6 separate regions of the Homo sapiens genome follow, and all the other regions are linked to region 1. The links come from fine-mapping of genetic effects on gene expression. A gene starts in region 1. Each other region holds a variant in brackets. All regions are shown on one strand. Distances are between the middles of the regions.

Region 1 (5,015 bases):
AACAAAACAAAAAAAAAAAAAAAAGGAGAAGCTTAGAATTGATTTTATTGCAATCACCCAAAACAAAACAAAAATGTAAAAGAGTAAGATAACTAGATTTTTTAGTCTCTTCTAAAAGCAAAGCTCCTATCTAGAAAGAGTGGTCTTAGTGGTATAATCTTATGGTAAATTCCAAACTGTGTGATAATTTTAAAAAAGTTATAAACTAAGATGAAAAAATAGCCCTACATTAAGACACATCACAATGTATTTTTACAAGTCTTATAACTCAGCACTTTGAGCAATCTCAGTTGTACATTTACACTGAATGTCTTTTTTTTTTTTTTTTTGACACGAAGTCGTGCTCTGTCACCCAGGCTGGAGTGCAATGGTGTGGTCTCGGCTCATTGCAACCTCCACTTCCTGGGTTCAAGCGATTCTCCTGTCTCAGCCTCCCAGGTAGCCAGGATTACAGGCGCCCGCCATCATGCTCGGCTAATCTTTTTGTATTTTTAGTAGAGACTGGGTTTCACCATGTTGGCAAGGCTGGTCTCGAACTCCTGACCTCAAGTGATCCACCCGCCTCAGCCTCCCCAAGTGCTGGGATTATAGGCATGAACTACCGTGCCCGGCTGAATATCTTTTTACTAGAAATTTAGAAAATACAAAAAACCATTTAATTCAACCTCAGTATATAAACACTTGGAGTTCAATGATTTTTCTTTAAAAAACTTTTTTAGAGTAATACATGAATGTGATTAAAATTGTACAGAAGGGTTTGTAATAGAGTGCAATCTTTTCTACTCTCACAGTGGAATCTGGACCTATTAGACAGAATCTAGAATTGGAGGAGTGGCCTTTAAAAGTCAGAACACGGTGGCTCACGCCTGTAATCCCAGCACTTTGGGAGGCCGAGGCGGGTGGATCACGAGGTCCAGAGATAGAGACCATCCTGGCCAACACAGTGAAACCCCATCTCTACTAAAAATACAAAAATTAGCCAGGCGTGGTGGTGCCTGCCTGTAGCACCAGCTACTTGGTTGCCTGAGGCAGGAGAATTGCTTGAACCTGGGAGGTGGAGGTTGCAGTGAACTGAGATTGGGCCACTACACTCCAGTCTGGTGACAGAGTGAGACTCTGTCTTAAAAAAAAAAAAAGAGTCAGAACTGTGAAAATCAGAAAATCAGAAGCACTTTCCTGAATGGCATACCCAGTGACTAGAACAGCTTCCACCTTAGCACAGATAGGAAATGGCAAACTTGACAGGAACCAATATCCTGAGGCCCAGAGACTTGTACCAGGTTGGCTGTGTGAAACTGAGGAGGTTAGTTCTTCACTGAGTGTGTTTCCTTATGTTTAAAACGGTAATAACAACTATCCTACCTGGGAAGAAAGATGGAGGAAGGTTGAGAGGGTTCAGTGATATGAAAAAGGGTGGCAATGTAAACCCTAGACCACTATGGCCCACAGACCACATTGGGCAGCTGTTTGTTTTTGTAATAAATAAATAAAATTTTATTGGTACACAGCCACTCTTATTTATATAGGGTTTATGGCTGGTTTTGCACTAAAGTTGAGTGGTTACTATAGACCACATAGTCAGCAAAGACAGAGAAGTATTTGCTATATGGCCCTTTACAAAAAATGAATTGGGGACCGGAGTTTTAGACCACTATGGGCTTTTAACAAACCCAAGTGTGTGATCACTGAATTTCAGAATCAGAAAAAGCCTTTGAAGAACTTGGGAGTTGAGCGTCATCACTAGGTAAATCAAACCTGTGGCTGAGAAGGGCAAAATGATACGTCTAAGGTCACACGCATTTGACCTGGACTTCTGGAGCACACCATTGTTACCACCAAGCGAAAACTATGAGGGGTGAGGGTAGAAGCTGAGGATAGTGAGACCATTGGGGTCCAGTCTCAAGTTGAAATGGCCAGTGTTCAGTGGCCAATTTCTGAAAAGGGGCCAGGAGAGCCTCACCTCAAGGCTGATCGTAACTGAAACTTATCTGTGCCTGTAGCAGCAAAATCTGAAAGTGGAAAGCAAGTTTCCAAGGGCCCAAAGAGGCTCTCAGCGGGCAGCCTGTAATAACCTAGGGCTCCTCCATCTCCCTAGTCCATTGCAGGGGCTGGAGATGGGTGTGGTGGAGGTGGCTACTATTTACTGAGGCCTAGTGTGTTGTGTCCAACATACTTTCAAGAACTTACACAATCTCATTTGATCCTCACAGACACCATATGGAACAGGTAACATCCCCATTTAAAGCTGTAGATGTTGAGGCTCAGAGAGGTTAATGACTCGCTGAAGGTCACACAGATGTCAAGAGGTGAAGATGAGACTCCACTAGGTCGGTTTGACCTGGAAACCTGTTTTTAATATCATGACTCACGGCACAGCCCATTGGTTACAGGATTGGGGCCGACACATAGCTGATAAGGGGGCCTGATCTTGGGTTGAAATCCTGGTCTATCAGTCCCGAGCACTAGCGGTGAGTCCAGATTACATTTTCCAACCTAGCACAAGTTTCCTGCTCTTAAGAGTTCTTCAGCCCCGTCTCATCTTTCCAAGCACCAGAGCTCTTCAAGAGCTGGTTAGGGCCTCCCTCTCATTCCTCCAGTGCACCCAGAATAGGGTTCAGCGCCGTGAGGACGTAGGCGGTCCTTAGCCACCCCTTGGCGCCTACCCTGGGTGGTCGATAGCCCCAACTGGGAACAGCACGGGCTCCGCGTCGGCTGCCAGCAGCCCGCCGGCCGCCACTTACCTGCCGCGGGGCGGTGAGGGTCCCATCCACGTCGAAGAGGCAGAGCGCTGGGCCAGGCGCTGCCATGTCCCCAGTTTCTAGCCGCACCTTACAAGACACGTTGGCACGAGGAACTCGGCCCGGAACTTCCGGGTTCGGCCGCTGAGTCGCAGGGCACGTCGGGAAGAGGAGGGGACTCCGTTCCCATAACGCCTGGGAGTAGCGGCAGCCACGATTCCTGGACCGCAACTCCCAGGGTGCAACGCAGATCACGCCCGCCTTGTACATTCGAGCATGCGCTCTTAGGGGTTCCGGGGGCCGGTGGGATTTACTTCCGGCAGCAGGTGGTGGGGCCATGGTAAGGAGGCGGGTGGCGAGCCTTGAGGGGGTGATGCTCTTTGGGGTCGGGGTCAGGGCTGGGGCGGGCAGGCCCGACGCTCGGGTTTCGGACTCCGAGGATCCGTGGGAGGAAGCTCTGGCGTGTGTTACAGTTCGCTTTTCCCGGGCTTTCTCTTGCCCTCCTTGGGTCACATGCGCACAGTAGTAGTAGCTAAAACTCGCCGAGCTCTCACAGTGCATTAGGTACTAAGTTGAGGACTCTGAAACCATCCTCTGGTTCACTGTGTTCTGAGTCCCCATTTTGAAAGGCGAAGAAACCGAATCTCAGGGGTGTGGAGTAATTTGCTCACAAATTACTGTTGGAGCCAGAATTGGAATAAGAGCTTTTACTGCTTCACTACCCACCTAGTAATACCCTTGTGCTACGTGTTGGGGCCTCCCTGCCTCGCTCCTTCTCCTTCTCCGCTGTTTCCCCTTCCCCAGACTAGGCTAAGAGAAAGCAGCAGTTCCCTCCAGCACCCAAGATAGCATATGAATCAAACAGAGAATTAGAAAGTTTATTGGAATAAATATCTCACAGATTTGTTGCTCGAGTTCCCCACTAAGACACTGATTATTTAGTTTCCTGCTTGGGGAAATGTTCACACCCCCTTGTGGATACATTGTCCAGCCCAGAGTTTGTCCTCCCTGGATATGTTTTGAATTAATGACGGCCGCACCTCCTTTCCTGTATTTATTTGGAATTGCCTGGTGGAAGGAGGACTCTGCTGCACTCACTGACTGTGTGATCTTTGGTAAATATCTTACCCTCTCTGGGCTTAGTTTCCCTAGTGGTAAAGTGGAAATAGTGATAACTATCTTAGATAGCTGTTGTGATGCCCACATGAGATAGCATCTGGCTTTACCCTTCCCTCGTCTGGCAATAACGGTTACCTTGCAGGATTGGCAGAAGCCTTAGAGTATGGTGCTTTGCAGATGTTCACCGTGTGATTAATGTGGTTGAGTTCCATGAGAGAAATGGTCTACTGTCTCCCTTTCAGGCTGCCCTTCTCCGAGCTGTGCGTAGGTTTCGGGGAAAAGCTGTGTGGGAAAGGCCTCTCCATGGGCTGTGGTGCTGCAGTGGGCAGGAGGATCCTAAGAGGTGGGTGGGCAGCAGTTCACCCATCTCGAAGGAGAAACTACCAAACGCAGAGACTGAGAAATTCTGGATGTTTTACCGTTTTGATGCCATCAGAACCTTCGGGTTCCTGTCACGACTGAAGTTGGCACAGACTGCCCTGACAGTGGTAGCTTTGCCACCAGGCTATTACTTGTACTCCCAGGGCCTCCTCACTCTCAACACCGTGTGCCTCATGAGTGGGATATCGGGCTTTGCCCTGACCATGCTGTGCTGGATGAGCTATTTCTTACGGAGACTGGTTGGTATCCTGTATCTGAATGAGTCTGGCACCATGCTGCGGGTGGCCCATCTGAACTTCTGGGGCTGGCGGCAGGACACATACTGTCCCATGGCAGATGTGATTCCCCTGACAGAAACCAAGGACCGGCCTCAGGAGATGTTTGTGCGTATCCAGCGGTACAGTGGGAAACAGACCTTCTACGTCACCCTGCGCTATGGACGCATCCTGGACAGAGAGCGTTTCACACAGGTGTTTGGGGTACATCAGATGCTCAAGTGAACAACTGGGACCTGGACCTCTGGGTAACCCTGGGTCGCCTGGATTAACAGGAAGGCTGAGGGTGTGGGCAAGGCTGAAGAAAGGGGACTGGGTACTTGGAGACTTTGCCTGGGCCCCTGGGAACATGTGTTTTGTGGTGAATAAATTCACAAGGCAAGAGCTGGTGTACAGGTTTAGGAAAAAGGCTCTAAGCAAGTTCTTACAGCACTTGTTTGTGACATTCAGTCAGATAATGGCCAGAAGTTTTTGTTAAGAGCCAGTTCTTAGAAGAACCTAT
Region 2 (4,472 bases), 55 kb before region 1:
GACCATTGCAACAACCTCTCACCATCTGAAGAGCATTAAAAGCATTTAAAAAGGAGAGGTGCCCACTGGTGGCTGAGTGGAGGTTCCAACCCCATCCCAGGGAGTGGATCAAGGGTGGTATTTCTCCAGCTGCTCAGACACATGGGCTCAACCCACAGAATCCCTCTTCCTCCTGGAGCTGGAGGCCCCAGATTCCCAGATCTGGCCCCCTGGCAGCCTGACAGGGACCTTGCGTGACTTCTCCAAGGCAAATTTCCACCTAAGTGCCCCTTGCGCCTCTCCTGGGGCCTGGGCAAAGCAGTTTTCTAATTCTTGGCTTGGTTGGTTCTAGGGGAGCTGGCTTGAAGTGGGTGGGGAAAGGCGGGGGTGGCGGTCTTTGGATTGGACGGATGTTGCCTTTTGGTGCCTTTGCAGTGGGAGGCGGCATAGCTGCCTGTCTGGGGAAGACAGTTCTCCCAGCACTCCCACCCCTGGGCACAGCAGGCTGGTACTGGGAGGCTGAACCCCTCTTAGAGCCTGACCTTTTCATCTGCCTTCTGGTTGTGTGACCATCACTCAACAGCCATTTCACAGCCCCTGTAATTATGGCGGCGGGGGGCTGGGGTGGTGGTGGTGGGAAGGGCTTGTGGAGAGGACACAGTCTTTGTTTAAAAACTTTGTCCCGATCCATCCAGAAAAGAGTAGGTAGCTTGCATCCTGACAGCCTGGCAAAGTCAAGAAAGTTGAAGGAGAAACATACCTTTGGAGAGGGGGTTTTCTTTAAAACTAGTGTTAAGAAATGCTTAGGGATTTTTTTTTTCTTATTTTTCATAACTAAAGCTTTCACCCAGAGCCGGCTCTGTTTGCACTTTGCTGCCGACATTGCAAACTTTTTGGCAGGGTGGGAGACTGAGTCTCATTCTGTCACCCAGGCTGGAGTGCAGTGGCCCGATCTCAGCTTACTGCAACCTCTGCCCTCCAGGGTTCTGGCAATTCCGCCTCAGTCTCCTGAGTAGCTGGGATTACAGGCATGCGCCACCACACCCGGTTAATTTTTGTATTTTTAGTAGAGACCAGGTTTCATCATGTTGGGCAGGATGGTCTTGAACCCCTGACCTCAGATGATCTGCCCATCTCGGCCTCTCAAAGTGCTGGGATTACAAGTGTGAGCCATCGCGCCCGGCCTGCAAACTTTTTTGTAGGTATTTCTGGTAAACAAATCCTTAGGTTATCTTTGCTGTGGTTGTGGTTTGGCTTTAGTCATGATTTCAAAGTAGAAATAGCTAGGCATTATTTTTTGAAATATATGACCTATATGTAGTCAAGAATCCACTGAACAGAGGCAAGCAAACCTTTTGGAAACTGGCTTTTGGGCAGACAGTAAACGTCCAGTTTGATGCTGGAAGCATGAACAGCTTCATCAGGTAGGTACTCCTCAACTCTGATGAGTTTGTCCTTTCAGCCTAAGGGGGTGGAAGGGAGTTGTTTGAGAATAGCAAATACGCATGTTGATTGCGAGTGTGTGGAGACAAAGGCAGTTCCCACCACAGTTAGGTCCTGGCCATTGTTTCCTC[G/A]CCTGCGATGCTCCTTGTACATCCTCACCCTCCTCTCCCGCCTCTGCCTTCTGCTGGGTCAAAGGTGGCCTTTTCTCTCCAGCCTTGAATTGTTCCCTGTTGGCTTCCCAAGGGCCCATCTGCTGGTACAGTCCACACTTCCACAGCCAAGACCCGAGAGGGCTTTCACTGCCCCAAGCCTCTCTCCTGTGACCCTGGGATTCTGTCTTGGCAGAATCCTTTGTCAGCGGCTCTTACTCTGTCCTTCCTGTTTGGCCACAGCTCTTTCAATCAATGGGTATTCTAGAACCGCAGGATGTCAGAGCTGGAAGGGACGCGATACCGGTTTACACAAGGGGAAACTCCTCGAGGCTCTGGGAGGGACGGAGGGTTTTGGTGACAGAGCGAGAGCTAAAATTGAGGATTCCTGAATCCAGATCTTGCCTCCCATCAGCCATCTTTCTCCCAATAAATTTTTGTTTTGTGCAAGGCTATGCGTGTGTTTGTGTGGAGGCTGGCTCACCAAGTTTTTCCTTTTAAGTCGTCAGATAAGGGTGTCTCCCCCAGGTGAGGCTGACACATTCCACGTGGCAGTCTGTTTTTTTTAGGGGATGGTGAATAAGAAGATGGGATCATCTGTTTTTTAGTCATCATTCTCTAGCATGAGAAAGCTTAGCAGAGAGGAGAATGCGGCTTCCTGGCAATAGAAAATGCCAGTAACTTGGTCAGCGGCGCTCCAGTGCCCTGTTGAAGCTTTTAGGATGTGTGAGTTACACCTCATCCCCATCAGCTGTGGGAAGAGAGGACGGGCCTCGGGGCACACTGTCCACAGTCCCTGGCTCATTCCTGCTATAGAAGTGTTTTTTGTTTGTGTTTTTGAGACAAGGTCTCGCTTTGTTGCCCTGCAGCCTTAACCTTGTGGGCTCAAGTGATCCTCCTTCAGCCACCTGAGTAGCTGGGACTATAGGCATATGCCACCATGCCTGGCTAATTTTTAAATTTTTTGTAGAGAGCAACTTGCTACATTGCCCAAGTTGGTCTCGAAGTCCTGTACTCAGACCATCCTCCTGCCTCAGCCTCCCACAGTGCTGGGACCAGAGGTGTGAGCCACAGCACCCGGCCACTGCTATAGACATTTGATGAACGTTTGCTAGGGCTGGGCACAGTGGCTCACGCCTGTAATCCCAGCATTTTGAGAGGCCGAGGTAGGTGGATGGCTTGAGCTCAGGGGTTTGAGACCAGCTGGGCATCATGGCGAAACATGGTCTCTACCAAAAATACAATTAGCTGGGCATGGTGGCATGAGCCTGTGGTCCCAGTTACTCCAGAGGCTGAAGTGGGAGGATTGCTGGAGCCCAGGAAGTGAAGGCTGCAATGAGCTGTGAATGCACCACTGCACTCCAGCCTGGGTGACAGTGACACCCAGTCTCAAAAAAAAAAAAAAAAAAAAAAAAAAAAGCTTGCTGCTCTTCAGGCATGAAGTCAGGGGCTGGAAGCAGATGAGGCTTGAGGGCCCGGGGCTGGCAGAGTCCTAGGACGGAGAGCTTTTCAAGGTCCATAGCAGGGGAGGAAGGGTTTGCTGTTGGGGCAGTGGGAGTGAGGGCAGAAGGTGGGCAGGTGTAAGAACTCCTGTTCTTGGTTTCCAGGAGAGCAGTGACAGGCAGGGGCCACTCTATGGGGTCGCTGTGCTCTGTTGGGAAGGCTTTGCTCTGGCCGGTGTCTCCCAAGGGAGGCAGTGATTTTGGGTGGTGCAGAGATGGACACTTTTCTTGTCAGTATTATACAATGATTTCCAAAGCATATTGGGAAAAAACCAGCCCATCAAACCTGTTTAGGGAGAGCCTAACGTAGGCACTTAGCTCAAAACAATGAGATTTGCTGACTTACTTACTATATGGAGTACTACATGGGTAGCCAAGGAAGGGTTTGGCAAAAGCTGAAGGTGGGGAGCGGGCGTGGTAGCTCACGCCTGTAATTTCAGCACTTTGGTAACCGAGGTGGGCAGATCACTTGAGGTCAGGAGTTCAAGACCAGCCTAGGCAACATAGTGAAACCCCGTTTCTACTAAAAATACAAAAATTAGCTGCACGTGGTGGTGCATACCAGTAATCCCAGTTACTTGGGAGGCTGAGGCAGGAAAATCACTTGAACCTGGAGGCAGAGGTTGCAGCGAGCCAAGATTGTGCCACTGCACCCCAGCCTGGATAACAGAGTGAGACTCTGTCTCAAAAACAAAAAAAAAGGCCGGGCATGGTGACTCATGCCCATGCCTGTAATCCCAGTACTTTGAGAGGCCAAGGCAGGTGGATCACCTGAGGTCAGGAGTTCAAGGCCAGCCTGGCCAACATGGTGAAACCCCGTCTCTACTAAAAAGACAAAAATTACCTGGGCATGGTGGCAGGGGCCTGTAATCTCAGCTACTCGGGAGGCTGAGGCAGTAGAATTGCTTGAACCGGGGAGGCGGAGGTTGCAGCGAGCTGAGATCGTGCCATTGCACTCCAGGCTGGGCAACAACAGTGACTTGTCTCAAAAACAATAGCAACAACAACAACAAAAAACAAAACTGAAGGTGGGACTGGGAAGACGTTTGGGAAAGCAGCCTCGGGTGAAGGAGGTGGAATGAGTTCTACGTCTTGACTTTGGGGTGCCGTGGCAGGCAGCGTGGAGGTTGCCTGTCGTTCAGGTTGGAGGAGCCTGCCTGGGCTGAGGTGGCCAGCTGGGGCCCAGAGCCAGAACACTTGGGAGGGGTGGAGAGGAAGCAGCAGCCCTTGGAGAGGAAGTGATTCAAAACCACGTATGCCTGGATGTGTCCGGACTACGGCAACATCTGCCCAACTGCCTTCTCCTGGCCCCTGTGGGCACTCCCCTTCCAGTAGCTGGAGAGACCTTCCCGGACAGATCATGAGCATGCCCCACACCTCTCCCTCGGGATCAGGTTCA
Region 3 (5,015 bases), 49 kb before region 1:
ACTCACTGTTCAAAGTGCTTTAAATTCCATACACGGTAAGGACTATCCCATTTGACAGAGGAGGAAACTGAGGCGAAGATGAACTCACCTTAAGTCACGCAGCAGCTTGTAGCAGCAGAACTAGGCTTGGGGTCTTGGCAGCTGTGCTCTTACCTGCCATGTGCAGAACCTGCTGCTCTGGGGTCACGCAGAAGGCACCAGGACATGTTGTGCATGCGTCGTTTAGCTGTTATCACTTTACATCCCACCACAGTGCGGGGCAAGCCGATGCCCTTGGAGTAAGCCCCAGGAAGCTGGCCTGGGATGCAATGTGATGACAAAGAAGGTGGAAGGGGAGTGTCAATTCTGACTGCAGAAGGGAGGCAGCAGACAGTGCAGGAGGGGCTCGAGGGGCCTGGGGAGGGTCTCAAGCAGCCACTGTGGGAACTGGGGCAGGGACGGCCCAAACCTCCGCGCATCAGCACCCAGCCTGGCAGACTCGGGGTACTCACCTGAGGGCAGCCCTGTGCAGGCGGTGACACAGCAGCAACCCTCCATCTCCGGTTAAAACAAGTTTGAGTAAGACTCGGTTGTCTCGCTTTGACGCAATACGTTAAGGAAACTTGTAAAGAATGGCAGATCCTGACCCAGTGGGCAGAAAAGCAGCGGGGGAGGAGTCTGTGCATCAGGAACAGCAACATGCAACTCCGCAGAGGGAGGGGCCCCCGATGTGACAGAAATCCAGAGTAAAGAAAGAGTGGCTCTCAGACCTGGAAGGGCTGGGGTTCCATTCCAGAATCTGGGAACATAGGAGGAAAAAGAAATCGGAATGAGAAACAGGAAACAATAAAATCACTTTAATGTGCTACTCTTCACTTTGGAAGGTCATTACAGTATCATTCGACAAGGAAAGATGCCGCTGGATGGCTGTGTCCTGTGAGTCACTGGGATGAGCTGGCTGCTTTCACCCCACCGGATCCGGGGCTCAGACAGTTACAAGCCCGAGTGGCTGGGAGGTTTGGAGGGAACCAGGTTTAGCTGTGATGAAAGCACCTGGCTGTGGGCTGGGAGGCAGGAGTGCAGGGCAGCCTGGGCTCCCCTGGCCCCAGACTCAGGTCGGCAAGTGCCCAGTGGAGGCCACACAACCCCAGCACCAAGCAATGGAGGGTGTATGGCTCAGTGTTTCCACATCCTGAAAAGTGACACATGAACCGTTTCCTAGGAAAGTTCTCTTCCACCGTGTTCTAGCTGAGACCCGGGATCCTTCCAGTTTCACGAAGAACGTGCAGAAGATGAAAAGAGTGAGGGACGCGGACCTAGCTGTAGCTGCACTCAGCCGCCTCCGTGGTAAAGTCTGGGTGAAGGCCTGGGTGAGTGCAGATAGGAGAGCAGCTCCTCTTACTGTTCTCTGGCTGGGCTCTCGCTCCATCCCTGAGAAACTAGAGGCGAACGCCTCCAGGAAGCCAGCCAGGGGCAACCAGAAAGTCCTTTTGGTGAAGTCTGACATCCCGCGTTGGTTTCTCTGGACCTGGGTAAGAACCGGCCCCAGGGCAAGGACTGTTTTGCCAGCACCAACTCTCCAGCCCAGCTGTTGGTTCCCACTACCTCCGGTCTCGGAGACAGAGAAGCAGCCAGGCTATTCTGAGTGTAGTGAACACAGAGCCGGTCCGAATCCGGCCCAGCCGAGGTGCAAACTCCCTAGGGTCTGCTCCCACTTGGCCAGCCATCTGTCCAGCAGGCCTCAGCCCCAAACACGGGAAAACGCAGAGTGCGTCTAGTCACTGGGTATCACACTGCCCCACTCACAGCCCCCATCAAGGTGACATGCAGGCGGGAGCTTCGTTCCAGGAGGTGTTTGTAAACTTCGTCCTGGGCTGGGTCACTGCAGATGGCCTGTCCTGGTTTCTCATTACCAAACCCCCATGTTTGGTATTGATGCAGGGGCCCATTAAAAAAACCGCTTATGTTTCCACAGACCCACCAAGAGGGAGGGTCCAGGCACAGTTTTTCTTTCTGTATCATCCTAGAATGATGGGGAAATTTCCGCCAAAACTACATGATTGCACGTATCAGGGTGGGTATTAGACTAG[G/T]GGGCTGGGGGTGGGTGGGGAAGACCTTTTGTGCGAGGCATTCCTCTGGGCCATTCTTGACAAGAGTTTTCTCCTTCCTTCTGGAAGTTTCTGGCACTGGAGGTGGAAGTCCAGACTGCACATGCCTGGCATAGCATGCAGAGCCTGCCTAGGCTGCGGGTGGGTGAGCACGTGTGGGAGGACCCTCGGCTCTGGCCACCGAATGCCCTATGCTGGCTTGTCAGCCGGGACCCCGCCCCTCCCGCTCCCACGTTAGGAGAACAGCAGTTCACAGATCCTGCGCGTGTCCTCAGGCGCTGTCACGGAGTAGCCCATGGTTCTGGGGTCTGTGAAGATCTCATGGTCATTGCCACCCTGGAAAGACACGAAGTACAGATGAAGGCTCCCCCTCGTCTGTCCCGGGCCATTGCTGATGTGACCCTGGAGTCCAAAAGTACCCAAAAAACAAGATTTAACTGGGCAGGGAGAGTTTCTTCAGCTACCTTCCTCTTAGTTTCCAGGAGAGGAACGTGAGTACAATTGTTATTAAGAAGAGATTTATAACCTTCTCTTGAACTGCAATTTGGCTTGGAACACGTAATTATGCCTATGAGAGCCATCACGATGTTCTTGCGAAGATCTGTCTAAGGCTTATTTTTCTACACAGAAGGCATCAGCGAGTGACAGTATTCTCACAGCCATCAGTTTTTTTTTTTTTTTTAGCTGTACCTACGCTTTTCTAACAAGTCACAAGGGAGCGTCAGGAGGGCAGAGGGCCGGGAGCAGGGCTGCCAGGGATATTCCTGTGATGAGGGACGTGGCGACATCAGCGGTGATGGCAGCCACTGGCCATGTGTCACTCTGCACACTTGAAACGTGGCCAATGCAATGGAGGAACTCAGTTAATTTGATTTTAATTTAAACAGCCCCACGTGGGCCGGGCATGGTGGCTCATGCCTGTAATCCCAGCACTTTGGGAGGCTGAGAAGGGTGGATCACTTGAGGTCAGGAATTTGAGACCAACCTGGCTAACACAGCAAAACTCCATTTCTACTTAAAATACAAAAATTAGCTGGGCATGGTGGCGCACGTCTGAAATCCCAGCTGCTCGGGAGGCTGAGGCAGGAGAATTGCTTGAACTCGGGAGGTGGAAGTTGCAGTAAGCCGAGATCGCACCACTGCACTCCAGCCTGGGCGACAAAGGGAGACTCTATCTTAAATAAATAAATAAATGGCCCCACATGACTGGGGTCTGAGCTGCTGGCTAAAAGCAGGGTCTCTGGAACAGGTGGCCTGGGTCAGATGCTGGTTCTACCACTGAGCAGCAGTGTGGCTGCGCCAACTCCCCATCTCCAAAATGGGGTCATGATGGAAGCTTGCTCACAGCTCTGTGGCCAGAAGTTCAGGAGATGATGGTTGGGGTCACACCTTGGTAAGATGACGAAACCGAGGCCTCAGAAAGTCTGCAAGGGCCCATGTCTAGGAGGACCTGGGCATGTTCTGCTGGGGTCCTGTGCCTGAGTTGAGTGCTCCCATCTGTGTCCCCATCACCCCCACCAATCCCACTGGGCTCACGTTAATGAATCAGGTTATCTGCCGCTCCCGCAACCCCGAGCCCTGCAGGAAAGCCCCCGTTTTTCTCATGGAATTCCTTTATTTCCCTCATAAAATTGGATAATCACTCTAACTCAAAACCTTAAAATAATCTACGATTGCTTTACAATACAATGAACACAACCGTAGAAAAAAGGGATTTTTCTCATAAAGCACCGAGCATGAAGCCAACGTGGAAACCATGATTTTGTACCAAAAATCTGACATCCTTTAAAAGAATTAATTGCCTCTGGAAATGAGTGTTTTCATTTTTGCAAGAACCTATCCCCAGGCAGATGGCCTCCTCAGGTGGAGGTGAATTTCAGGCTTCAGGAGGGAACGTCGCTGGGCCCAGGGAGTGCTGGGTGGAGTCAGGTTAGGAGGCCATGAACTTGGCATCTCTTCCAGTCCAGCCACTTGGGAACCTGTCAGGGCCTTGTACTGGCCTTACACAGTTTTGTACCAGGCCTGGGGGCCTTCAGACAGACCTGAATTGCATGGCCACCATCTGCTACCTACACATGTGAAATCAGTTCTGGTAATTCTGATTTTGCCTTTTTTTTCCTTCGGACATAGGGTCTTGCTATGTTGCCCAGGCTGGGCTCGAGCGAACCTCCTGCCTCAGCCTCTCGAGTAGCTGAGACAAAGACTGTGTCCAACAGTGCCAAGCTAGTTCCAGTAATTCTTCTAATTAAAAAAAAAAAAAAAAAGATTTCTTTCAGGAATGGCACAGTGGGTAAAAGTCACAGAGAACCTAACAAAGGCACAACCTAGCTGGGTGTGGTGGTGCGCACCTGTAATCCCAGCTGCTTGGCAGGAGAATCACTTGAACCTGGGAGGCGGAGATTGCAGTGAGCCAAGAACAGACCACTGTACTTCAGCCTGGGCAACAGAGCGAGACTCAAAAGAAAAAAAAACAAACAAAAAACCAAAGGCACAACCAACTCTCACATGCCTCAAAAGAGCCAAACACCCTCCCCGCCTCAGTGACTGAGGAGGGGAGTCAGTATTCACACATTAACACAACACACCTTTCTAGAACACCTACTGTCAGGCCTCTGAGCCCAAGCCAAGCCATCGCATCCCCTATGACTTACACGTGTACATCCAGATGGCCTGAAGTAACTAAAGATCCACAAAAGAAGTAAAAATAGCCTTAACTGATGACATTCCACCATTGTGATTTGTTTCTGCCCCACCCGAACTGATCAATGTACTTTGTAATCTCCCCCACCCTTAAGAAGGTTCTTTGAAATTCTCCCCACTCTTGAGGATGTACTTTGTGAGATCCACCCCTGCCCGCAAAACATTGCTCTTAACTTCACCGCCTATCCCAAAACCCATAAGAACTAATGATAATCCACCACCCTTTGC
Region 4 (5,015 bases), 62 kb before region 1:
TTCAGCCCTTTGTCTCTGGGGCCTTGAACAGGGCTCGGTATTGGGCACGTGTCTGTTGAGTGCCTTTATGATGACAATTATAACAACAGTCGTAGCTGACAATTACTGCTCACTGGACCTGGGCGGACAGTGTGCCCAGTGCTTAGTGTGTATTATTTTGTTTTCAGTTCAGCCTGATGGTGTGAAATCGGGACTATTATAATTCCCATTTTCCAGATGTGGAAACTGAGGCCCAGAGAGATTAAGTAACTTGTACAAGACCACACAGCAGGCAAGGGGTAGGATTAGAAGTCAGCTATGCTTCATTAGCCGGGCGTGATGGCGGGCACCTGTAACCCCTGCTACTTGGGAGGCTGAGGCAGGAGAATCACTTGAACCCAGAAGGTGGAGGTTGCAGTGAGCCGAGATTGTGCCATTGCACTCCAGCCTGGGCGACAGCAGGACTCCATCTCAAATTAAAAAAAAAAAAAAAAAAAAAAAAAAAAGTCAGCTATGCTTGACTCCAGGAGAAAGGAGGGAGGGAGACTTTGGATAGAACAAGGCAGGGCAGTGTCTCTAACTGTGGAGTTGCGAGGCCACTGCTCCCATCTGCTGTCCTGGGAGGCCTGGACAGGGCCCTCCCCTCCCAGGGCCAGCCTCTTTCCTGGAACTCTGGGCGTTGAACATTCTAGGACTCTATGACCTGTGCTGGTAGGTCATGCGGGGGCCCTGGCCCCCAGGCCAGCAGCTGGGGCCTTTTTGAGGTGGGGGCTCCCCGGACTCAGGAGTTCCTCCTTGGCCGCGGCTGTAGCTGAGAGAAGGGACAGGAGGTAGGATGCCACCTCCTCCAGAAGGCAAGCCAGCCACCAGCTTCCCAGCCCGACAGAACTGAGGCCCAACGGGAGAGTGCAGCAATGTCTGGGGAGGGGTTCTGACATTTCAGGGATGGGGCATCCCTTCTCCTCTGAGCAGTCGGGCCTGGTTCTTGGGTGGCTATGCTTGAAGGCGGTTCGGGGGGTGCGGTGGGATTTTTGGGTGATGTAGGTTGAAGACTCCTATAAATGAGGGGACTGGGGGGGCAAACTGAGGTTGAAGGTTGTGAGAGCTTCATTTCTTTCCATGAGCAGCTGGAAACCTGGATTTTGAGGAAACCCCCTGGGATGTTTAAGATAGTTCAGGCCGGGCATGGTGGTTCATGCCTGTAATCCTAGCACTTTGAGAGGAAGAGGTGGGAGAATCCGTTGAGCCCAGGAGTTTGAGATCAGCCTGGGCAACATAGTGATACCCTGTCTCTATAAAAAAAAAAAAAAAAAAAAAAAAAAAAAAAAAAAAAAAAATTAGGCATGGAGGTCAAGGCTACAGTGAACTGTGATTATGCCACTGCCCTCCAGCCTGGGTGACAGTGAGACACTGTCTCAAAAAAATAAAAGTTATTTATTTTTTTTTGAGACGGAGTCTCACTCTGTCACCCAGGCTGGAGTGCTGTGGTGTGATCTCGGCTCATTGCAACCCACAGCTCCCTGGTTCAAGCAATTCTCCAGCTTTGGCCTCCCGAGTAGCTGGGATTACAGGCACCCACCACCACGCCCAGCTAATTTTGTATTTTTAGTAGAGACTGGTTTTCACCATGTTGGCCAGGCTGGTCTCCAACTCCTGACCTCAGGTGATCCACCTGCCTCTGCCTCTCAAAGTGCTGGGATTACAGGTGTGAGCCACCGCACCTGGCCCATGCTTCAAATCTAAATTTGAAAACCCCATGGGACCTGAGTCAAACCGATCCAGGGCTGCTGCTGTCCCTCCCGGCTGTGTGGTGTTGAGTGGCGTCCTGAGTTAGTTAGGCTTCTCCCTACTTCATCTCGTACCCCCATCACCAGCCCTGCGCAGGTGCCAAGTGATGCCCACCCAGCTGCCCCACTTTGCAGATTCGGAAACTGAGCCCAGAGATGGGAAAGGACTTACCCAAGGGCCTCTGACTGCTGGACTGTTTCTCTTTCCCCTGAACCTCGAGCTGAGGCCACGTTAGAGCCGACACCTTCATATTCAATGTTCAGTGATTATTGTGTACAGCGAGTGTCCTGCTCTTGAAAAATTGTCAAAAGCACAGCAGCAGCTAGGGAATTCCCGCCCTCCAGCTGGATTTACCGGTACATACTAGGGGTCACAGAAGGAATTTGATTTCATAACAGCGTGGTGACCCGGGCTGTGTGGAAATTCACTGGGCCTGATGGAGCTGGATGCAGCCTTGGAAATTCTCCCTTTCCCTTTGGGCTCTCGCAGCAGGCCCCCCAGTCCTGGGTGCAGGCTTGTGACAGCTGCTCAGGGATCCAAACGTGGCGCTTGAGCTCTCTGCGACGTGTTCCACAGTTCCCTGGAGGCGGACACTGCGTGAGGGTCAGTTTTTGCCCCTGCTTCCCTGTGGTGTCTGGCTCCCAGCAGCGTCAGGGAGGGTCCGTGGAGTGGCTGAGTTTGGATCTAGGTGGTTGGCATTAAAATCTCCCTGGCTTTG[G/A]GTTTTCTTTTTTGAGACAGAGTCTTGCTCTGTAGCCCAGGCTGGAGTGCAGTGGTGCGATCTCAGCTCACTGGAACCTCCGCCTCCCAGGTTCAAGCAATTCTCATGCCTCAGCCTTCAAGTAGATGGGATTACAGGTGCCTGCCACCATGCCCAGCTAATTTTTGTATTCGTATTAGAGACTGGGTTTCCCCATGTTGGCCAGGCTAGTCTCGAACTCCTGACATTAAGTGATCCGCCTGCCTCGGCCTCCCAGAGTGCTGGGATTGCAGGTGTGAGCCACTGCGCCCGGCCCCTGGCTTTGGGTTTTCTGCTCACCTTCCTCCTTCCCTCCCACAAATACTATGTGTCCCAAATGTGCCGGGATCCATGCCTTGTGCTGGGGACACAGAGGGGACCGATGCCATCCTGGTCATGGGGGAGGATGTGGCATTTTCATGAAGAGCTATGATCGAGGGGGCCCCACGGTTGCTTCAGGAGCCCAGAGTAGGCATCTGACCCTGCCAGGCGTGCTCCCAGACAAGGTGACAATGGTGCTGAGGTGCCCGAGAGGAATGAGCCTCAGATACTGGACTGTCAGACGTGGACATGGGGGTAAGCACAGGGTCCCTACCTTGCAAGGCACGAGCCCCTGACAGCCTCTTCTCTTTCCAGGTCAGCCATGTCATCTGAGCCTCCCCCACCACCACAGCCCCCCACCCATCAAGCTTCAGTCGGGCTGCTGGACACCCCTCGGAGCCGTGAGCGCTCACCATCCCCTCTGCGGGGCAACGTGGTCCCAAGCCCACTGCCCACTCGCCGGACGAGGACCTTCTCGGCGTGAGTCTGGAGCAGGCTGGGGACGCGTTCTCAGATGGATCTCTTGCCTGAGGCCAGAGATTCACTGTGTCTCTGGCCATTTTTGGGCCTATGTCCCGGACTGCCAAATAGGCAGACCTGGGGCTGGGCCGTGGGCTGAGGGTGAGAAACTAGGAAGGCGCCTTGTAAATTCAGGGTACTGCCCAGCCCAGAAGAACCTGTTACCAGCTGGGAGTGGCAATGGGTGGGCAGTTGCTGGGGTCAGAATCGCTGGGCTTTAACCACACATGAGAGTCTGGTTCCCTGTGAGACTGTGAATTCTGCAGCTGCAAAATGGGCACAGCACCAGGGCTGCAAAGGACCCACATAATGCCTGGCAGATGCAGGTCTCAGGCCTTGCGAGTGGAGGATGCTTGTGTTATTAATAGTAAATCATTAGTTTCTGGAGGGATGTTCAGTGATGTTTTAGTTCAACTCCCTCTTTCCAGGAGGGAAAACAGGCCCGAGAAAATTGGCCAGGGTCATCCAAAGAGTCCTTTCCCCCAGCGTCTTTGTGAGCGGCTCCCAGGGTTGAGGGTTGTGCAGTCCTCAGCCTGTGTGACTGTACATGGCGGTCCTGGCCAGGGCTTGATGGGGCACAGCTGTGGGCAGGGGCTGGAATGAGCTTTGTGTGCCCAGGAGCGCTGATGGGGCCCCTGACATTTCCCCCTCTCTGTCAGGACGGTGCGGGCTTCACAGGGCCCCGTCTACAAAGGAGTCTGCAAATGCTTCTGCCGGTCCAAGGGCCATGGCTTCATTACTCCAGCTGATGGCGGCCCCGACATCTTCCTGCACATCTCTGAGTGAGTCAGCGGCAGGTCTGGGTGGCCTGGCTGGGGTGGGCGCTTCCTTGGCCCTGTGGAGGTGGGGATGGTGTGTGACTCTGATGGGCGCTGGGTGTGAGGACGAATGGCTGGGCCTGTGTGACTCTGCCTGTGGCTGGTGCTCCAGCTGTGCTCCTGTGTGTGTGTTGGGTTGGGGTTGTGAGACTCTACGGAGCTGTGTTGGGGGATGTGAGGCTGGGGGCGACACGGTACTTGTGATTGTCCCTGGGTGTGTCTTTGTGAATGGGTGTGTAAGGTTTTGTGTGTGCTGGGCGTGGTGGCTCACGCCTGTAATCCCAGCACTTTGGGAGGCCGAGGTGGGTGGATCACGAGGTCAGGAGATCCAGACCATTCTGGCTAATGGTGAAATCCCGTCTCTACTAAAAAAACACAAAAAAAATTAGCCGGGCATGGTGGCGGGCACCTGTAGTCCCAGCTACTCGGGAGGCTGAGGCAGGAGAATGGTGTGAACCTGGGAGGCGGAGTTTGCAATGAGCCGAGATTGCGCCACTGCACTCCAGCCTGGGCAACAAGAGCAAGACTCCATCTCAAAAAAAAAAAAAAAAAAATAATGAGCAGGGCGTGGTGACAGGTGCATGTAATCCCGGCTCCTCGGAAGGCTGAGGCAGGAGAATCACTTGAATCCAGGAGGTAGAGGTTGCAGTGAGCCGACATCTCGCCATTGCACTCCAGCCTGAGTGACAAGGGTGAAAGTCCATTTCAAAAAAAAAAAAAAGGATCGGGCATGGTGGCTCACACCTGTAGTCCCAGCACTTTGGGAGGCGGAGGCAGGCGGATCACCTGAGGTCAGGACTTCAAGACCAGCCTGGTGAAATCCTGTCATCACAAAAATACAAAAAAATAGAAAA
Region 5 (5,015 bases), 30 kb before region 1:
CTATGATTTCATCTCCATGCTGACCAATCAGCAATCCACACCTCCAGAGCCCCTACCCACCAAGTTATCCTTAAAAACTCAAATCCCCAAATTCTTGGAGACTGATTTGAGTAATAATAAAACTCCAGTCTCCTGCACAGCTGGCTCTGTGTGAATTAGTCTATTGCAATTCTCCTGTCTTGATAAATTGGCTGTCTAGGCTGTGGGCAAGGAGAACCTGTGGAGGGGGTTACAAATTTGGGGGCTCATCTGTGATCTCCCTTGTGGCTATCTTCCAGCGATTCAGTAGCCTCCCCAACCCCCCTCACTGGTGATGGATCCAGAGGCCAGCCCAGGCGGCCACCTAGTTCTCTTCGACTGGGGGCTGACACTGGCACCATCTCTACTAATGGGGTGCTGCCAACCCATGGTGTATGGATTTAACTGCAATAAACAGTCCTGGGGAGACGTCCTGTAACTGTAGCCCCATCACAGGGTATCTGTCTGTAGCCCCATCATTGGGTGTCTGCCTGTAGCCCCATCATGGGGCATCTCTAGCTCTATTAGGTGGTATCTGTTTGTAGCCCCAGCATGGGGTATCTGCCCTAATTGTACAGAGAATAGGGGACTTGTTTGGAGGAATACTCTTGGTTTGTGATTTAGTCTGGAAACTCTTTCTGGAAGGTGTTTTGCTGTATGTGTTTGTATATGTGGAGGAGATGTCTAAGGGAATTGCTGAAGGAAGTCCATCAGGCTCTCCTAGTTTGTCTGGTTGGTCACATTCACTGAACCCTGAAGGACTTGTCAGCAGAAGCTCGGAAGTTTGACAGGGCTGCCTCGAGGGTGACCATCCGCTCTTCCATCTGGCTCAGAGACCATCCTTTGAATTCCCGGTGGAAGGCGTCCCTTCCCACCTTGAGTGGAGTGGATCAAAGATGACAGAGACCAACGGGAGCAAGTGTGAGCCTTGCCAAGTTGATGCTGGGCACTGAGCATAGTGACTAGTTTTGTCATGTGTACTCTGCTCTGGCCAGGATGGAAAATGTTAATTCAGTTCCCCATGCAGCCCATTGGGCAGCATCTTGAAAAATTGAGAGGCTTTTGCCTGTGGTTCCATAAAACAGAAACGGATGGTTTTCCTTTGCAATGCGACTTGGCGCCCACAGCTAGCGTGCAGCGATCAGGGTCATCAAGAGCTGCTCCGTTCTTCTGGAAGCTACAGAGAATGGGAACCCAGAAACCTGACATGCAGGCAAAAAGGGTAAACATTTCTTACCAGCCAGGCTTCTGGCCCCTCTCGCCGTGTATGAATGGAAAACATCACTGTTTGTCTCCTCTGCAAGGGTCTGATTAATAGAAAAAATCTTATGAGCCTAGACTTAGGCTGTAGGGAATCTGGTGCACTCTGTGCTGTGAATACAAATCCCCAGCTACTCTGGAGGCTGAGGCAGGAAAATCACTGGAACCCGGTGGGTGGAGGCTGCAGTGAGCTAAGATCGCACCACTGCACTCCAGCCTGGGCAATAGAGTGAGACTCCATCTCAAAAGAAAAAAGAAAAACAAAGACAAAGGCACAACCAGCTCTCACATGCCTCAGATGAATCACACATCCTCTCTCCTCACTCAGTGACTTAGGAGGGGGAGTCAGTATTCACACATTAATACGACACACCTTTCTAGAACACCTACTACCTGCCAAGCATTGCTTTAGTAGCTGGAGATACAGCGCAAACCAAACCCACTCACAGCTGCATCCTCTGTCATGGAGAGCAGGACCACAGAATAGGATGTGGACATAGGACCCCTCTAAGCCCGCTGTTCAATCCAGCCTGGCAGACTGGTCAGTTCCAAACTTTGCTCCAACAAAAACCAGATAAGGTTTCCCTCTTCTCTTGTTTTACGTCCTGAAAAACTTGACTTTGGGACCATGTCAGGGTACCCTCTTTTGGTCTCCGGCATCCAGAGGGCATGAATTTTTGGGTTCATGTCGGTAGCTGGTCTGAGAGGACATGTGACAGTGTCATGTCTAGCCTTAAGAATTATCTTGAGTAAAGTCCTGGATTCCCAGGAAGACCAGTGTAACAGCCTTCAGCTTTAGCTCAGTAGCTGAAGCTTTGCTATTTCACAGTGGTAGCCTGGGTCTGGTTCCCAGCTTACGGAATGGGTGCTCTCTGGTTTGTTATTTATGTAAGTTTTTTTTGTGTGCCATTTATTGATTCTTTCCCCACCATGGACAGCTTGCCTTGAAATCTGCCTTAAATTTTCTTTTCTCTAAACTACGTTTGGGGAGATTCTAAATCTTGTAAAAGAAAAAAACAAAAAACTGCTTACCATCCCTTTGAGACATCTTATACTTCTGTAGTTAAGTCATAATCTTAGATAAGACTTATTAATTTTGCTAGGAGGTTACCTGTGGTAAAGTTCAAAAGCCAGAAATACTGGCTGTCTATCCTGGCTAGAGTCTGGTAATAAGAAATTTAAAAAGATTTTGTAAAAAAAAAAAAAAAAAAAAAGAGTTCTACAGTTAAAATCTGCTTAATTAAAAATGGATATCCAAGTTTTATATATATATATAAATTTATAAATATATATATTTATAAATATATATTATATATAAAACATAATATATATAATATATATCATATATATCATATATTATATAACATATATATAATATATAACATATATATTATATATTATACAATATATATAATATATATTATATAAATATATAAATATGTATAAATATATATAAATATATATATATAAATGTGTGCATATATATATATATATATATATATATATATAT[ATATATATATG/G]CACACATTTAAAAGGCCTTTGTGGGCTGGGTGCAGTGGCTCATGCCTGTAATCCCAGCACTTTGAGAGGCTGAGGCAGGGGGATCACTTGAGGTCAGGAGTTCAAGACCAGCCTGGCCAACATAGTGAAACCCTGTCTCTACTAAAAATACAAAAATTAGCCAGGCCTGGTGGCGTGTGCCTGTGGTCCCAGCTACTCGGGAGGCTGAGGCACGAGAATCACTTGAACCCGGGAGGCAGAGGCTGCAGTGAGCTTAGATCATGCCATTGCACTCTATCTAGCCTGGGTGACAGAGCAAGACTCCATTTCAAAAAAAAATAAAAATAAAAATAAAAAAATAAAAAAAAGGCCTTTGTGCTTTTTCTCTTCCTGGATTTTTTTTTTTTCTTCGAGGAATGAGTTTTTGTTTGTCTTTCTTCTCAGTCAACTGAATTATTTCCCCAGTCTGTCTTCCTGCCACTCTGAATGCCCACATGAGAGGACCTAAGGTACTTTCTGACAGCTGGGGACTCCTTGGGAAAAAGAGAGAAGGCTCCACAGACCCTGTTTTGGGAGAAACTCTGTTTTCCTCATAAAACCCCAAGAAGTGTAAGCAGACAGACCCCTCTCAAAATCTAAGGCTCTGTTCTGTTTTGAATCACATTACTTGGCCTTTTTCACTTTTGAGGGCATCAGGAATTACTTTAGTAGGGGAGAGAGATATGTGAAAAAAGTTGAGGCTATAAAGATGTATTTTTGGTAAGGATGATTATAAAAAAAGAAATTTATATGAGAAAAGATCTTGTATGGTAAATTCTTGTCCTAAAATAGAACGACTGATTATTCACGAAAGAGGGACACATAGGACAAGTCAGACAGTCCAAGCATGGCATAGATGGTCTCTGTGAGTCGTGACAAGATTTGTAAAATGGGGAAAAAAAACCCCTAAAAAATCAGCAAATGAAAAATCTTAACTAATGCATCTTCTTCGGTCTATATATTTATAATGTTGTGTGTGTGATGTTTAAGAGCTGTAATTAATTGGCTTAAAAAATAAGCACTTAAATATTTTTTCAAAGAAATAGCAACTCTAATGCATTTTAGTTCACATGACGTTAGTAATCTTTGGTAAATAAAGATAGTTTTAAAGATTATTGATGAAATAAAACTGTCTTCATTTGGTCTGAATTAGGCAGATCAGATACTGTTTCTGCTGGATGCTTTAAGGTCATAAGTGGCTTCTGTGACTTTTGTAATTGTTCAATTTACCTACTTTAGAGCCATTAGATTCCAGATAAGGCCTGGGGACATATGGAGGTAGCCATGACTCCTAGCTAGGCCAGAGAGAGTCAGACTTTATCTGCAGTTCTGTCCTGTATTCTAGGCTCTGCACTTGGTATGTAATTAAAACTGCTTAAAGACATGGGAATATGGGTTTTTTTAAAAGAGAAAATCTTCTCTAATTTAGAGAGTTTAAAGATTATTTTTGGTTGAAAGACAAAATAAAACTGAAAGTTTAAGCAAATTGTAGGTTTGTGAAAAATTAACTTTGTGAACAACTCTGTGTGTGAGCAAGCTGGCTAAAATCGAAAGGGTATTATTTAATTTTTTCCATAAATTAAATATTAAAAGCATACTGATGCAGGGCCAGAATCTGGGCCCATATATCAAAATAATAGGGTTTTATGCCAGATGCGGTGGCACATGCCTGTAATCCTAGCACTTTGGAAGGCCGACGCAGGCAGATCACGAGGTCAGAAGTTCGAAACCAGCCTGGCCCATATGGTGAAATCCTGTCTCTACTAAAAATACAAAAATTAGCCGGGCGTGGTGGCACACGCCTGTAGTCCCAGCTACTCGGGAGGTTGAGGCAGAAGAATTGCTTGAACCTGAGAGGCAGAGGTTGCAGTGAGCTGAGAATGTGCCACTGCACTCCAGCCTGGGCAATGGAGCAAGACTCCATCTCAAAAAAAAAAAAAAAAATAGTGTTTTATTTTTGAACACTGATTTGTTAACAAACAATTATAAAGGGTTATATAAAAGGTTTACGAAAATGTTACCCTACAGTCAAACTAAAATCGGATACATTTGTTTGTAAAATTTTATTAAAAACTAGCTTTGGCTAGGAGTGGTGGCTCACAACTGTAATCCCAGCGCTTTGGGAGGCTGAGGTGGGCGATCACGTGGGGTCAGGAGTTCAAGACCAGCCTGGCCAACATGGCGAAACCCAGTCTCTA
Region 6 (5,015 bases), 42 kb before region 1:
AGCACGCTTTAAAAGGATTAAAGCCTGTTATCACTGGCCTGCTACAGCATAGGCTTCTAAAACCTATAAACTCTTCTTATAATCCCCCCATTTTACCTGTCCAGAAACCGGACAAGTCTTACAGATTAGTTCAGGATCTGCGCCTTATCAACCAAATTGTTTTGCCTATCCACCCTGTGGTGCCCAACCCATACACTCTTTCATCCTCAATACCTTCCTCCACAACTCACTATTCCACACTTGATCTTAAAGATGCTTCTTTCAGCGTTCCCCTGCACCCCTTGTCCCAGCCTCTCTTTGCTTTCACCTGGACTGACCCTGACACCCATCAGTCCCAGCAGCTTACCTGGGCTGTGCTGCCACAAGGTTTCAGGGACAGCCCTCATTACTTCAGCCAAGCTCTTTCTCATGATCTACTTTCTTTCCACCCCTCCGCTTCTCACCTTATTTAATATATTGATGACCTTCTTCTTTGTAGCCCCTCCTTTGAATCTTCTCAACAAGACACACTTCTGCTCCTTCAGCATTTACTCTCCAAAGGATATCAGGTATCCCCCTCCAAAGCTCAAATTTCATCCTCATCTGTTACCTATCTCGGCATAATTCTCATAAAAACACACGTGCTCTGCCTGTTGATCTTGTCTGATTAATCTCCCAAACCTCAATCCCTTCCAAAACAACAACTCCCTTCCTTCCTAGGCATGGTTAGTGCGGTCAGAATTCTTACACAACAGCCAGGACCACACCCTGTAGCCTTTCTGTCCAAACAACTTGACCTTACTGTTTTAGCCTAGCCCTCATGTCTGCGTGCAGCGGCTGCCGCTGCTTTAATACTTTTAGAGGCCGTAAAAATCACAAACTATGCTCAACTCACTCTCTACATTTCTCATAACTTCCAAAATCCATTTTCTTCCTCATACCTGATGCATATACTTTCTGCTCCCCGGCTCCTTCAGCTGTACTCACTCTTTGTTAAGTCCCACAATTACCATTGTTCCTGGCCCGGACCTCAATCTGGCCTCCCACATTATTCCTGATACCACACCTGACCCCCATGACTGTGTTTCTCTGATCCACCTGACATTCACCCCATTTCCCCATATTTCCTTCTTTCCTGTTCCTCACCCTGATCACGCTTGATTTATTGATGGCGGTTCCACCAGGCCTAATCGCCACATAGCAGCAAAGGCAGGCTATGCTATAGTACAAGCCACTAGCCCGCCTCTTAGAACCTCTCATTTCCTTTCCATCGTGGAAATCTATCCTCAAGGAAATAACTTCTCAGTGTTCCATCTGCTATTCTACTACTCCTCAGGGATTATTCAGGCCCCTTCCCTTCCCTACACATCAAGCTTGAAGATTTGCCCCCACCCAGGACTGGCAAATTAGCTTCACTCAACATGCCCCGAGTCAGATAACTAAAATACCTCTTAGTCTAAGTAGACACTTTCACTAGATAAGTAGAGGCCTTTCCTACAGGGTCTGAGAAGGCCACCGCAGTCATTTCTTCCCTTCTGTCAGACATAATTCCTCAGTTTAGCCTTCCCACCTCTATACAGTCTGATAACGGACCAGCCTTTACTAGTCAAATCACCCAAGCAGTTTCTCAGGCTCTTAGTATTCAGTGGAACCTTCATATCCCTTACAGTCCTCAATCTTCAGGAAAGGTAGAACGGACTAATGGTCTTTTAAAGGTACACATCACCAAGCTCAGCCTCCAACTTAAAAAGGATTGGACAGTACTTTTACTTCTTGCTCTTCTCAGAATTAGAGCCTGTTCTCGAGATGCTACAGGGTAGGTACAGTCCATTTGAACTTTTATATGGACGCACTTTCTTGCTTGGCCCCAACCTCATCCCAGACACCAGCCCTCTAGGCGACTGTCTTCCAGTCCTCCAGCAGGCTAGACAGGAAATTCGCCAGGCTGCTAAGCTTCTCTTGCCTACTCCAGATCCCCAGCCATATGAAGACACCCTAGCTGGACGATCAGTTCTTGTTAATCTGACTCCTCAAACTCTACAACCTCGATGGACCGGACCCTACTTAGTCATCTATAGTACCCCGACTGCTGTCCGCCTGCAGGATCCTCCCCACTAGGCTCACCGTTCCAGAATAAAGCTGTGTCCATCGGACAGCCAGCCTAATCCCTCCTCTTCCTCCTGGAAGTTGCAAGTACTCTCCCCTACTTCCCTTAAACTCAGTCGTATTTCGAAGAACAGTCATAACCCTTATGAGCCTAATACATCCCTTCATTCTATTAGGTTTTTCGTCCTTACCCTACTTTTTGCAACAGGGCTTTACGAAGTCACCCCCACCACTTAGGCCGAGCCCCAAAAAACTAGTCATCCCTACTATCTTCTGTCTGGTCATACTCCTATTCTCCATTCTCAACTACTTATAAATGCCCTACTCTTGTTTACACGGCCG[G/C]TTTACACTGTTTCTTCAAGCCATCACAGCTGATATCTCTTGGTGCTATCCCCAAACTGCCACTCTTAACTCCCTCTTAGAGTGGATAGATGATCTTTGCTGGCAAGGCACCCTCCAATATTTCCACCCTGATGAAGTTCTATTCTTTACTTTTATACTCACTCTTATTCTCATTCCCATTCTTATGCCACCCTCTACCTCTCCCCAGCTATCTCCACCACACTATCAACCTTACCCATTCTCTCCTAGCCGCTTCTAATCCCTCCTTAGTGAACAACTGCTGGCTTTGCATTTCCCTTTCTTCCAGTGCCTACACAGCTGTCCCCACCTTACAGACAGACTGGGCAACATCTCCCATCTCCCTACACCTCCGAACTTCCTGTAACAGCCCTCACCTTTACCCTCCTGAAGAACTCATTTACTTTCTAGACAGGTCCAGCAAGACTTCCCCAGACATTTCACATCAGCAAGCTGCCGCCCTCCTTCACACTTATTTAAAAAACCTTTCTCCTTTCTCCTTTCTCCCCCCATATTCGGACCTCTCACAACACAAACTACTATGCCTGTGGCCGCTCCTATATGTATCTCTCGGCAAAGACCCACTGGAATTCCCCTAGGTAATCTTTCACCTTCTCGATGTTCCTTTACTCTTCATCTCCAAAGTCCAACTACACACATCACTCAAACAATGGGAGCCTTCCAGCTCCATATTACAGACAAGCCCGCTATCAATACTGACAAACTTAAAAACATTAGCAGTAATTATTGCTTAGGAAGACACTTGCCCTGTATTTCACTCCATCCTTGGCTACTTTCCCCTTGCTCATCAGACTCTTCCTCCCAGGCCCTCCTCTTGTTTACTTTTACCCAGCCCCGAAAATAATAGTGAAAGGTTGCTTGTAGATACTCAACGTTTTCTCATACACCATGAAAATCGAACCTCCCCCTCTATGCAGTTACCCCATCAGTCCCCATTACAACCTCTGACAGCTGCCGCCCTAGCTGGATCCCTAGGACTCTAGGTACAAGACACCCCTTGCAGCACTCCTCATCTTTTTACTTTACATCTCCAGTTTTGCCTCGCACAAGGTCTCTTCTTCCTCTGTGGATCCTTTACCTAACATGTGTCTACCTGCTAATTGGACAGGCACATGCACACTAGTCTTCCTTACTCCCAAAATTCAATTTGCAAATAGGAACGAAGAGCTCCCTGTTCCCCTCATGACACCGACACAACAAAGAAGAGTCATTCCACTAATTCCCTTGATGGTCGGTTTAGGACTTTCTGCCTCCACTATTGCTCTCGGTACTGGAATAGCAGGCATTTCAACCTCTGTCATGACCTTCCGTAGCCTGTCTAATGACTTCTCTGCTAGCATCACAGACATGTCACAAACTTTATCAGTCCTCCAGGCCCAAGTTGACTCTTTAGCTGCAGTTGTCCTCCAAAACCACCGAGGCCTTGCTTACTCACTGTTGAAAAAAGAGGACTCTGCATATTCTTAAATGAAGAGTGTTGTTTTTACCTAAATCAATCTGGCCTGATGTATGACAACATAAAAAAACTCAAGCATAGAGCCCAAAAACTTGCCAACCAAGCAAGTAATTACGCTGAACCCCCTTACGCACTCTCTAATTGGATGTCCTAGGTCCTCCCAATTCTTAGTCCTTTAATACCCATTTTTCTCCTTCTTTTATTTGGACCTTGGATCTTCTGTTTAGTTTCTCAATTCATCCAAAACTGTATCCAGACCATCACCAATCATTCTATACAACAAATGTTTCTTCTAACATCCCCACAATATCACCCCTTACCACAAGACCTCCCTTCAGCTTAATCTCTCCCACTCTAGGTTCCCACGCCGCCCCTAATCCCGCTTGAAGCAGCCCTGAGAAACATCGCCCATTCTGTCTCCATACCACCCCCCAAAAATTTTCACCGCCCCAATACTTCAACACTATTTTATTTTTCTTATTAACATAAGAAGGCAGGAATGTCAGGCCTCTGAGCCCAAGCCAAGCCATCGCATCCCCTATGACTTGCACGTATACATCCAGATGGCCTGAAGTAAATGAAGATCCACAAAAGAAGTAAAAATAGCCTTAGCTGATGACATTCCACCATTGTGATTTGTTTCTGCCCCACCCGAACTGATCAATGTACTTTGTAATCTCCCCCACCCTTAAGAAGGTTCTTTGTAATTCTCCCCACTCTTGAGAATGTACTTTGTGAGATCCACTCCTGCCCACAAAACATTGCTCTTAACTTCACCGCCTATCCCAAAACCCATAAGAACTAATGATAATCCACCACCCTTTGCTGACTCTCTTTTCGGACTCAGCCCGCCTGCACCCAGGTGAAATAAACAGCCATGTTGCTCACACAAAGCCTGTTTGGTGGTCTCTTCACACGGACGCGCATGAAACACTTCAATCTCTCCCTTAATTTCAATTCCTTTCATTTTCTGGTAGAGACAAAGGAGACACATTTTATCTGTGGACTCAAAACTCCGGCGCCGGTCAGAGACTGGGAAGGCAGCCTTCCCTTGGTGTTTAATCACTGCAGGGACGCCTGATTATTTACCCAC

The links. PIP is the estimated chance that this variant, and not a neighbour inherited with it, causes the effect.
Region 2: its variant is fine-mapped to the expression of PMM2 in whole blood (TOPMed, PIP above 0.99).
Region 3: its variant is fine-mapped to the expression of PMM2 in subcutaneous fat (GTEx, PIP 0.92).
Region 4: its variant is fine-mapped to the expression of PMM2 in whole blood (INTERVAL, PIP 0.97).
Region 5: its variant is fine-mapped to the expression of PMM2 in whole blood (INTERVAL, PIP above 0.99).
Region 6: its variant is fine-mapped to the expression of PMM2 in whole blood (TOPMed, PIP above 0.99).

What each region holds. Positions count from the first base shown.
Region 1 is chr16:8,795,675-8,800,689 of GRCh38, reverse strand. It overlaps PMM2 (phosphomannomutase 2), which reads right to left and starts at 2,851. Exons shown (of 8, transcript NM_000303.3): 1 at 2,742-2,851. The coding sequence starts at 2,807. TMEM186 (transmembrane protein 186) reads left to right here and starts at 3,051. Exons shown (of 2, transcript NM_015421.4): 1 at 3,051-3,078; 2 at 4,100-5,015. The coding sequence starts at 3,076. The coding sequence ends at 4,738. RefSeq lists a silencer at 1,163-1,212 and enhancers at 2,068-2,762, 3,075-3,124, 2,763-3,457.
Region 2 is chr16:8,850,496-8,854,967 of GRCh38, reverse strand. CARHSP1 (calcium regulated heat stable protein 1) reads left to right here. Exons shown (of 4, transcript NM_014316.4): 4 at 1-2,021. LOC100130283 (a long non-coding RNA gene) reads right to left here. Exons shown (of 5, transcript NR_147908.1): 3 at 3,918-4,035. Among named protein-coding and RNA genes, the nearest start is that of CARHSP1, 16 kb to the left of the region's middle. RefSeq lists an enhancer at 4,446-4,472. The variant G/A (reference allele first, on the strand shown) is at 1,554.
Region 3 is chr16:8,845,132-8,850,146 of GRCh38, reverse strand. PMM2 (phosphomannomutase 2) reads right to left here. Exons shown (of 8, transcript NM_000303.3): 8 at 822-2,423. The coding sequence ends at 2,322. LOC100130283 (a long non-coding RNA gene) reads right to left here and starts at 678. Exons shown (of 5, transcript NR_147908.1): 1 at 492-678; 2 at 154-298. RefSeq lists an enhancer at 3,066-3,657. The variant G/T (reference allele first, on the strand shown) is at 2,070.
Region 4 is chr16:8,857,460-8,862,474 of GRCh38, reverse strand. It overlaps CARHSP1 (calcium regulated heat stable protein 1), which reads left to right. Exons shown (of 4, transcript NM_014316.4): 2 at 3,140-3,304; 3 at 4,003-4,125. The coding sequence starts at 3,147. LOC100130283 (a long non-coding RNA gene) reads right to left here. Exons shown (of 5, transcript NR_147908.1): 5 at 2,058-2,347. Among named protein-coding and RNA genes, the nearest start is that of CARHSP1, 9.0 kb to the left of the region's middle. RefSeq lists an enhancer at 1,845-2,559. The variant G/A (reference allele first, on the strand shown) is at 2,486.
Region 5 is chr16:8,825,503-8,830,517 of GRCh38, reverse strand. All of the region lies in intron 7 of PMM2 (phosphomannomutase 2), which reads right to left. Among named protein-coding and RNA genes, the nearest start is that of PMM2, 30 kb to the right of the region's middle. RefSeq lists an enhancer at 439-1,040. The variant ATATATATATG/G (reference allele first, on the strand shown) is at 2,789.
Region 6 is chr16:8,837,808-8,842,822 of GRCh38, reverse strand. All of the region lies in intron 7 of PMM2 (phosphomannomutase 2), which reads right to left. Among named protein-coding and RNA genes, the nearest start is that of CARHSP1, 29 kb to the left of the region's middle. The variant G/C (reference allele first, on the strand shown) is at 2,428.